2 linked regions of the Homo sapiens genome follow. The protein of the gene in region 2 interacts with the protein of the main gene of each other region in a pairwise test. Each region holds a gene or a part of one and is shown on either strand. Other genes may lie near its edges.

Region 1 (3,823 bases), on a different chromosome or scaffold from region 2:
AGTGTCCGTTCTACTGTGATATTGAATAAGATTAAGGTAGAAGGATCATTTCAATGCACGTGTGGAGAGGAGGAAAAAACTAGACACAATCTAAATGCTCAAGTAAAGGAATGGTAGAAACAATAACGGTATATACATATAGTGTGACATTATAAGACTACTAATAACTTATATAATTACTAAAATTATGGCCCTAGTATTCCTGGGTTCACACAATAAAAATTATAGTCTCCATTTTCATAGACACAGTTAATTGAAATTAATTCCCTTTCTCTCTTTTTCTGCCTCTCCCCACCCCCCCCACCCTTTGTTTCTTTTTGGGTTAGATTCTTTGTTTTCTACCTATGACTTTGGAACTCTAATTTTAATTCAGACCTATATCTATGCTGTTTAGGCAGGTACAATAATTGTTCAACTTAAGGCAATGAGACCTCTTAATATATATCGGTCCTCATATACATAAACAGAAAAATCACCTGAGTCCCATTTAAAAAGATAAATGCTTGAAACTATTAGGAGTCAACTATAAAGACATGAATCATCACTTCAATAGGGACTGCAGCAAAGGTTAAGCATAACAATACTTTTCTCTCTAAAAAATGAAGCTTTTCAAATGCATGCAATATGTGAGGAAACCATACATTACCCTCTAATCCTCTCTGTACTGGAGTGCCACTGATACACCATCGATTAATCCCACTCAAACGCTGGGCCATTTCTGCAGCCTGATGAGAGGGAAAAATGAAATAAAAATGAAATCCAGAAAACCACAGAAAGAACACAGAAGTCAGGCATACTCATGAAAAACAGCCCATTAAAAGCTACACTTCTGGTGAGATGTACCTACTTTTATTTAACAGTTATCACACTCAATGTTGAATGTCATATTCAATGGACCATCTTCCAGTACAGTGGTTCTCATTAGTGGGAGGCTGCCACGCAGTCCCCTAAAACAGAGGGGTAGTTCAAATACGTACAAAATGAAAAAGCCCCCTGAATAACTGATCCATGCCCTGCATCACTCTATCCTCCAGATATACTAACAGACATGATTCATACATTCAGTTCAGGTTACAGACTGGCCAAAGACAACAGAATAAAGACATATGACATTCAAAGGCTGAATCAAAATTCTGTCCTCTAAAGTAGTATTTTCTGTTACCATTTGGCCTCTGATTTAAAAGACTGTCAAAGTCAACTTTGGTTCAAAGCTATCAGAGGCTACACGATGAGCTCCCAGTTAGCAGAAATGCTTACAGAAGTTCCTAAACACAGTTTACTTTGATCTGCATCATATATAAACAGACATCTTACTGAAAAATATATATTTCATATAGAGCAATGAGTCACAGAGTACAGAACTAATTTCAAAGGGTTATGTAGTTCAAAGCACAAGAGAAAAGCACAAGTAGTGTTTAATAACAAACTTTTGACCAATATCAGTACTACAGGTTAACTATGCTTAAACTATTAAACTACTCAAGGTCCCCTAATTCCTTTTCACCCTTCTTCCCCAGCCCTCAAAAGATTTTGCAGAAACTCTCACTTTTACTGTGGGACACTCAACCATCTGAGCTTCATCAAGGCAGATCCTCCACCACTCCACAGCTACCAGGGGGCTCGGGATAGCCATATAGCGCTTCTGGTTCCGTAGGCGACGCCCATCCTCACTATTGCTATGTGGGATATCGACATAATTTAATTCTGAACGCAGTACATCATAGGTAATGATAACTATATCCTGTTCTGCCAAAAAATGAGGTTGTAAAAAGCCATCTTTCTTCACTCCTTGATATACCTAGGAAATAATCAATACAGGCAGTTATTGCAAAAAGGCTCACTAAAGGCAATGAAATATTCACTCATTTATACCCTTACTAAGTCCTCTCTATTTTCTTAGGAGCATTCATGCTATGAGACAGATCCCATACCTGTTTGGAGAAAGACATGTTTTAGTGTGGAAGATGAATTACATAACTGATGTGCAACAAACTGTAATAAATGTGAACATGACAGCATCACAGTGGAAAGACCAATTCTGTAGCGGAGAAGGTAAAATCACAGAGGAGTTAAAACCTGAGGTATATCTTAAAGGTTCTCATAGGTGGCAAAAAGAGAAAAGGGCTATATGTAGGTAGGAGGATGGAATCAATAGCATATGTGAAAGCACAATGGTATGAAAAAGTAGAACAATAAGAGCTATTATTTATGAAATGCCTTTTATGTTTCAGATACTGTGCTAAGCATTATCTCCAAACTTCAACAATAATTCTGTTGGTGGTTGTTAATATTCCTATCCCACACATAAGAAAAATAAAGTGACTTGCTCAAAACTGATGGAACTAAGACTCAAAGCTTTGCCTACCCACACAGAATAGAGCTTCTTAACAGCAAAAATTGTTTTGCTTATTACAGTATTCTCCATGCCTATGTAAAGTGGATGAAATACAAAAACCTTCAGTAACACTTGCATGGAAAGAAGGAAGAATGAAATTAGTGAAGGGTATTAATATTAGGAAACAATAACATTACTATGTGCCCAGTACTTGACAAAATCATATCTTCACAAATGACTGGATACTATTTTTAAAACTCAGCAGTTCCTGGCACATAATAAGTGGTCAATAAAGATTTGCTGTATAAGTAAATTCTTATTTTACAGCTGAGGTAACTGAAGCTTTAGAGGATGATTTTGGAGCTAAGAGATGGCAGATCAGATAAGTAGCTCCTATTACACAGTGCTGCCTTTGGATTGCATTTCTCTCTGAAGACTATAAATGCTTATACCAAGAATTTCTCATTTACATACTCAAGAATTTTTAAAAAGCTTCCACATCTTTATACTCAAAATGCTTTAATTGGTGAAATTCTGATGTTAGAAAAGAATAACATTGTACTGTTCTAGTTCTTAGTCTCAATTTTTTTCTTTAAGCTTTGATTTAACATTACTATTAAATCATTCAGTTAGTTTTGAGGATAAACCACAAAGAAACAAAGATTAGGAAACTATCATGAAGAAGCAAAACTTTACATTTTCCTCTCCCTCTTTAGTCCAAGTGGCCTTACCAAGACTCGAAGAGATGACGACCTCACATGCCTGTTGATCTCATCCACCCACTGGTGACAGATGGAACTTGGAGAGATGATCAGAGTTGCTCTTGTTGACACTGGTTCCATTGCAACAAGGCAGTGGGGGCAGTAAAAAGGCTTGATCTTCAGATTTTTCTCATCATAATTCACACACTTTGCATGTTGCCACAGGTGACACTTCAGGCATTGAACACGAGGCTTACGATCTATCTGATCAAGTTCACCACATATACACTCAAAGCGGTAATCAGAGGTGTTAAAGGGACTCATGGTATTAGAAGGTGGTACATCACTATCAGCATGATTTAGAGATTCAGCACAGTCCTCTGTTTCATGTTCTTGGTTGAATTCAGAGATACATGTACTTTTAGACATAGCAACATCAGTTATTCCAGAGTCGCTAGTAGCTGGACAGTGACCTTGTGAATCGGGATTGATAAATGGTTGACTTTTTCCTTTTTTTGTGGATGGAACAAGCTTTTTCCTCAATTTACTGCGATTTCTCCTGGACTTATAATAATAATAGTAAGGATCATCATCATCATCAGAGGTGTCTGATGGCAAGTATTCAGAATCTGTGTCCTTGTTCCCTGATTTTCTAGTTTCTTTCTGAATTTTCCTTGGACTCCCTACTGCCTATGAAAAAAATATTTAATTAATTGATTGCAACTAGTTGCATTTCTGAAATTAAACTCCTGACTTTATGTAAGTACTTCATATAATTATGTAGCAG
Region 2 (3,823 bases):
TACAATGAGATTTCTAGAAAGCCTGACTTGAACTGGTATCAACTAATGATCACTAAAGTATAAAGGATCAGGTTCAATCTACTGTACATCGAGGCGGAAGTCACTGGGTTAGAACACTGTATTGAGGCTTATTCCTAAATTCTGCAAGGCCTGGGATAAGAGGACAAATGGAGGCCCACATACTATATGTAGCTAAAAATTTAAAAATGATCAATCGAGCTAGTAACTTAAGTAAAATATATTGTATCCTCCTGCACTGACAAACTTATCTTTGTAACAACCTGGTTGATTCAGGTTTGAATTTAGAATTCTTAGTCCCTCAGAGTTTTATTCCAGAATGCAGCAGGGCACAGACAGCTGATCCCCATATCCCAGGCTCTTCCCTTCCACTGCTTCCTGAATCCCGCTCTCTCCAGCACTGGGAGGCACCTCACATTCATTTGAGAGGATATCCCAGCCCTCGGTGCCAGGATCCATCCACAACACTCCCCAACACAGCCCTTGGCCATCACTCAGGCCCAAGGGCACAGTCAATGGTGGCACGTTCCCACCTGGAGGAGATGGACTGACCTTAGGAAATAGACTGTGCGGACGCAGACGTGGGCTCAGGGATTTGGGGCAAGGAACTCCAGATGTCCAGAACGTGGTACAGAAGGAGAGCCCACGAGAGCTGAACAAGCACATTCCCATGGCCCCAGTGATCCCTCACCCCTTTGGGAGTGAGGGGGCCTAGAATGGGGCACTCTGAAGTGAGGAGTTTCACTTGCCCCAGTCTAAGAGCAGTACTGTGTGTGAGGCCAAGGTATCAGTCCTCTTTCACACTACTTGTTCCATCCTGGGACCTCTTAGCCAAAAGCTGATTGCAGGCCTAGCCCCAGACAACTGGTTTCAAAGACATACTGAGCTATATCAGCACATACACAAATCACTCCTTAAGAAGACAAGGCACTGTTAATTCCCATACAGTCCCATCTCAAACTGAATCACAGACTGGAGGGACCTACAACTCAAGTAGCTTAAAATTATATATGCACGCAAAACACACAACTTAGTACATCTTCATATTCGTAAGGATACAAAAGGTGAACAACAGTGAAAACAGCCGTGCCTGGCTTACGCCTTCTGCTCCCTTTTACTCTTCCCGGGGCAACTGTGCTTTCAAGAGGATGGAATCTCTAACTCTACTACCCAAAAAAGAAAACGATGAGTTCAGTGTTCACATCTGAAACCTTCCAGAACTAAGCATTATTTTTCCACTGGAACACTGTATGAACACAGGAAGACACTGAAGTTTCACAAACATGTTGGAATATCATCTGGAAATCTGACGGCGATATTCCCCAAAATTATGTTAGCATTCACACACTTTCATATTCCCTCACTTCTGCTGAGGGGATAGGGCTGCCTTGACTTAGCAATACCTAACACATTTATCCCATGCCCCAGAAATTTTTTAATTATTATGAATCCACTCAAGTCAAATGTAATTTGGCTGTTTCTAGAGGCTAGGTCCAGCTAGAATAATATTAGTTGTTTTTAAGTGAGAATGCACTTCCATTATAAATGGGGTATTACTACTTCCTCTGCTTCAGCAGAATTCAGAGGCCCATCAATGAATCGCCACAGATTTCCCATCAAAGGAAACCCATCCTCTGGTCATCAGGTGTCCTGTGAGAGTCAAATCACCAGGACCTTCCCAGGGTTACAGTTCTAATTCTCACCCAGCTAGTCGTCATAAATTTTCTTTCTTCTCTTGAATTGTACTGTATAAACTCGAATTATTCTTCAGCTATTTTCTTCTCATTTGTATTATGTTGTACTATATTTGGGCTTTGGTACTTAAGGTCTGATCTCAGCAATCTGAAACAGCCTTTGCACCGCAAGAGTCTTCCCCAAACATTCCTTTTTTTTTTTTTTTTTTTTTTTTTAAATATTGCTCCCATTATGCCCAAGAATCAAAGATTCTTTTGTTTGGGTGGAGGACTCTCTGTCCACTTAGCTCCCTCCCAACTCAGCTACAGATTAGGTTTGTTTCAATAACATAAGGACTGTTCTCCAAAAGCTCTGGCAACTGTGGACAAAAAGGGCTTCTTCGAGCTATTACACAACATGTGACTTTGCTAAATCAAACCTTTATTTATAAGATATGGAAGAATCAGTTATTTGTGTGATAAGACATGCGAATTCTAGGATAGTAGGACCTAGGCAGATGTCCACATGAACTTGAGGGACTTTAAAAATCTTAGGATTTTAACTATAACCCACTTTACTCCAACAAAATAGACCAAATAGCTAATACTTACAGAATACTTACCCTGTACCAGGCACTAAGTACTTTATATGTGCGAAATTAATCCTCTCAGCTCTAACTTTACAAACGAGGAGACGGAGACACAAAGCAGATAAGGAACTTGCCCAGGATCACAGGTGAAGTGGCAGAGGCTCGCCCTAGCTGCCAACAGACACCGCCCCCATGCCAGGCTGCTGCCCATCGTGAGCAGCAGTCCCATGCTACCAGGCTCCGGGTAGTCAAGAGGCCAGCAGTGTTACAGGTAGGCTGCATCATACAGTCGGCAGGCTTTTGTGAGCTAGCCTGAGAATCTTTCACAACACTAAAATTTGACTGCGTCTTCCCACAGGAAGAAACACTGGACTTCCAATACTGATAATAACAGCAGTAGCTAACATTCTAAGAGCATTACCTACGTTAATTCTTTGAATCCTCAGAATACCATGAGGTAGGTGTTATTATTACCCCTATTTTACAGATGAAGAAACTGAGGCACAGAGAGTCTTTGTAAGTAACCAACAGTTTAGTAAGTGGGAGATTTGAGATTCCAACCCAGGCAGCCTGGCTTCAGAGTCTTGGCTACCGGAGTTTTTAACCCTCACATTATGCTGCCCTCAGAATGCTTATTTAACCTTTCTCCACATGTATGGAGGCTACCGGACAACCACGTTAGCAATTATGAACACAACAGTCCGTAGACAAGATGCGTAACCCCACTCACCGTTGGGAAGTCCTCCAGCACCTGGCGATCCTTCTCCTTGCTCTCCATGAACCGCCAGTCTGGTTGGTAAAGGAAAGAGTGAAAGTTGTGTAACAGCGGGACCTTCTTTTCCACACTGATGGTCATGTCATCTTCCAGTGTGTCCAGAGCTCGGAGAACCAGATAAAATATGCACACTGCGTTGCTGTAAAAAAGGGAAAACTATTAATATATTGGAACAAACAGCCAAAGATTTTTTATTTTAAAATAACTTGTGCCTGGCCACTTTCTAAACCCATCTCACCCTTAACTCTAAAGAACTATAAGGATATCCAACGCTTTTCATACTTAACGAAAGTTACATTAGTTTTCCTTCCTTACATGAGAGTAATGAACTTCTGTAGTTTATTAAAAAGCCTACTAGTTGAATGTCACCACTACTCCCAGAAGTGAGTTGCATTTAACCAATGTAGAACTATGGAGACCAGAAGACCAAACGTTTAGACCGAACTAATATGTAGCAAATAGAAAAGAAAGTCAAAAAACACAGTAACTTCTCAGTATAAATACGATCATACATAAAGGCAACTGGTCTAAGTTCATGGGTGTAATGTGCACAGAGGCAGCTTCAAAAGAATCAACCCAATATGCTAGAAATAGAAATGCAAAGTTGGATAAGGGAAGCCGAGAAATACACGACCTGCTCACAGGCAGGTTCAGCTGCCAAGACTAAAAAAAGTTAATAAACATCACCCCCTCCCCCCTCTTCTCTGAAAGGCTGGGCCCGCAGGGACTCTACTAGATGGCAAAGAGCCTGGAAGGGCTTTCTAAAG

Evidence for each region.
Region 1: the proteins of FDFT1 (region 2) and SHPRH interact in a two-hybrid assay, tested with the Homo sapiens proteins (one large-scale study listed by BioGRID and IntAct).

Annotation. Positions count from the first base shown.
Region 1 is NC_000006.12:145,940,077-145,943,899, forward strand, and holds part of SHPRH (E3 ubiquitin-protein ligase SHPRH), read right to left. Parts: intron 3,727-3,823; coding exon 3,067-3,726; intron 1,799-3,066; coding exon 1,547-1,798; intron 948-1,546; coding exon of another isoform or gene 870-947; exon of another isoform or gene 848-869; intron 726-847; coding exon 647-725; intron 1-646. UniProt on the Homo sapiens protein: E3 ubiquitin-protein ligase involved in DNA repair.
Region 2 is NC_000008.11:11,809,039-11,812,861, reverse strand, and holds part of FDFT1 (squalene synthase), read right to left. Parts: intron 3,722-3,823; exon of another isoform or gene 3,372-3,721; intron 3,196-3,371; coding exon 3,012-3,195; intron 1-3,011. UniProt on the Homo sapiens protein: Catalyzes the condensation of 2 farnesyl pyrophosphate (FPP) moieties to form squalene. Proceeds in two distinct steps.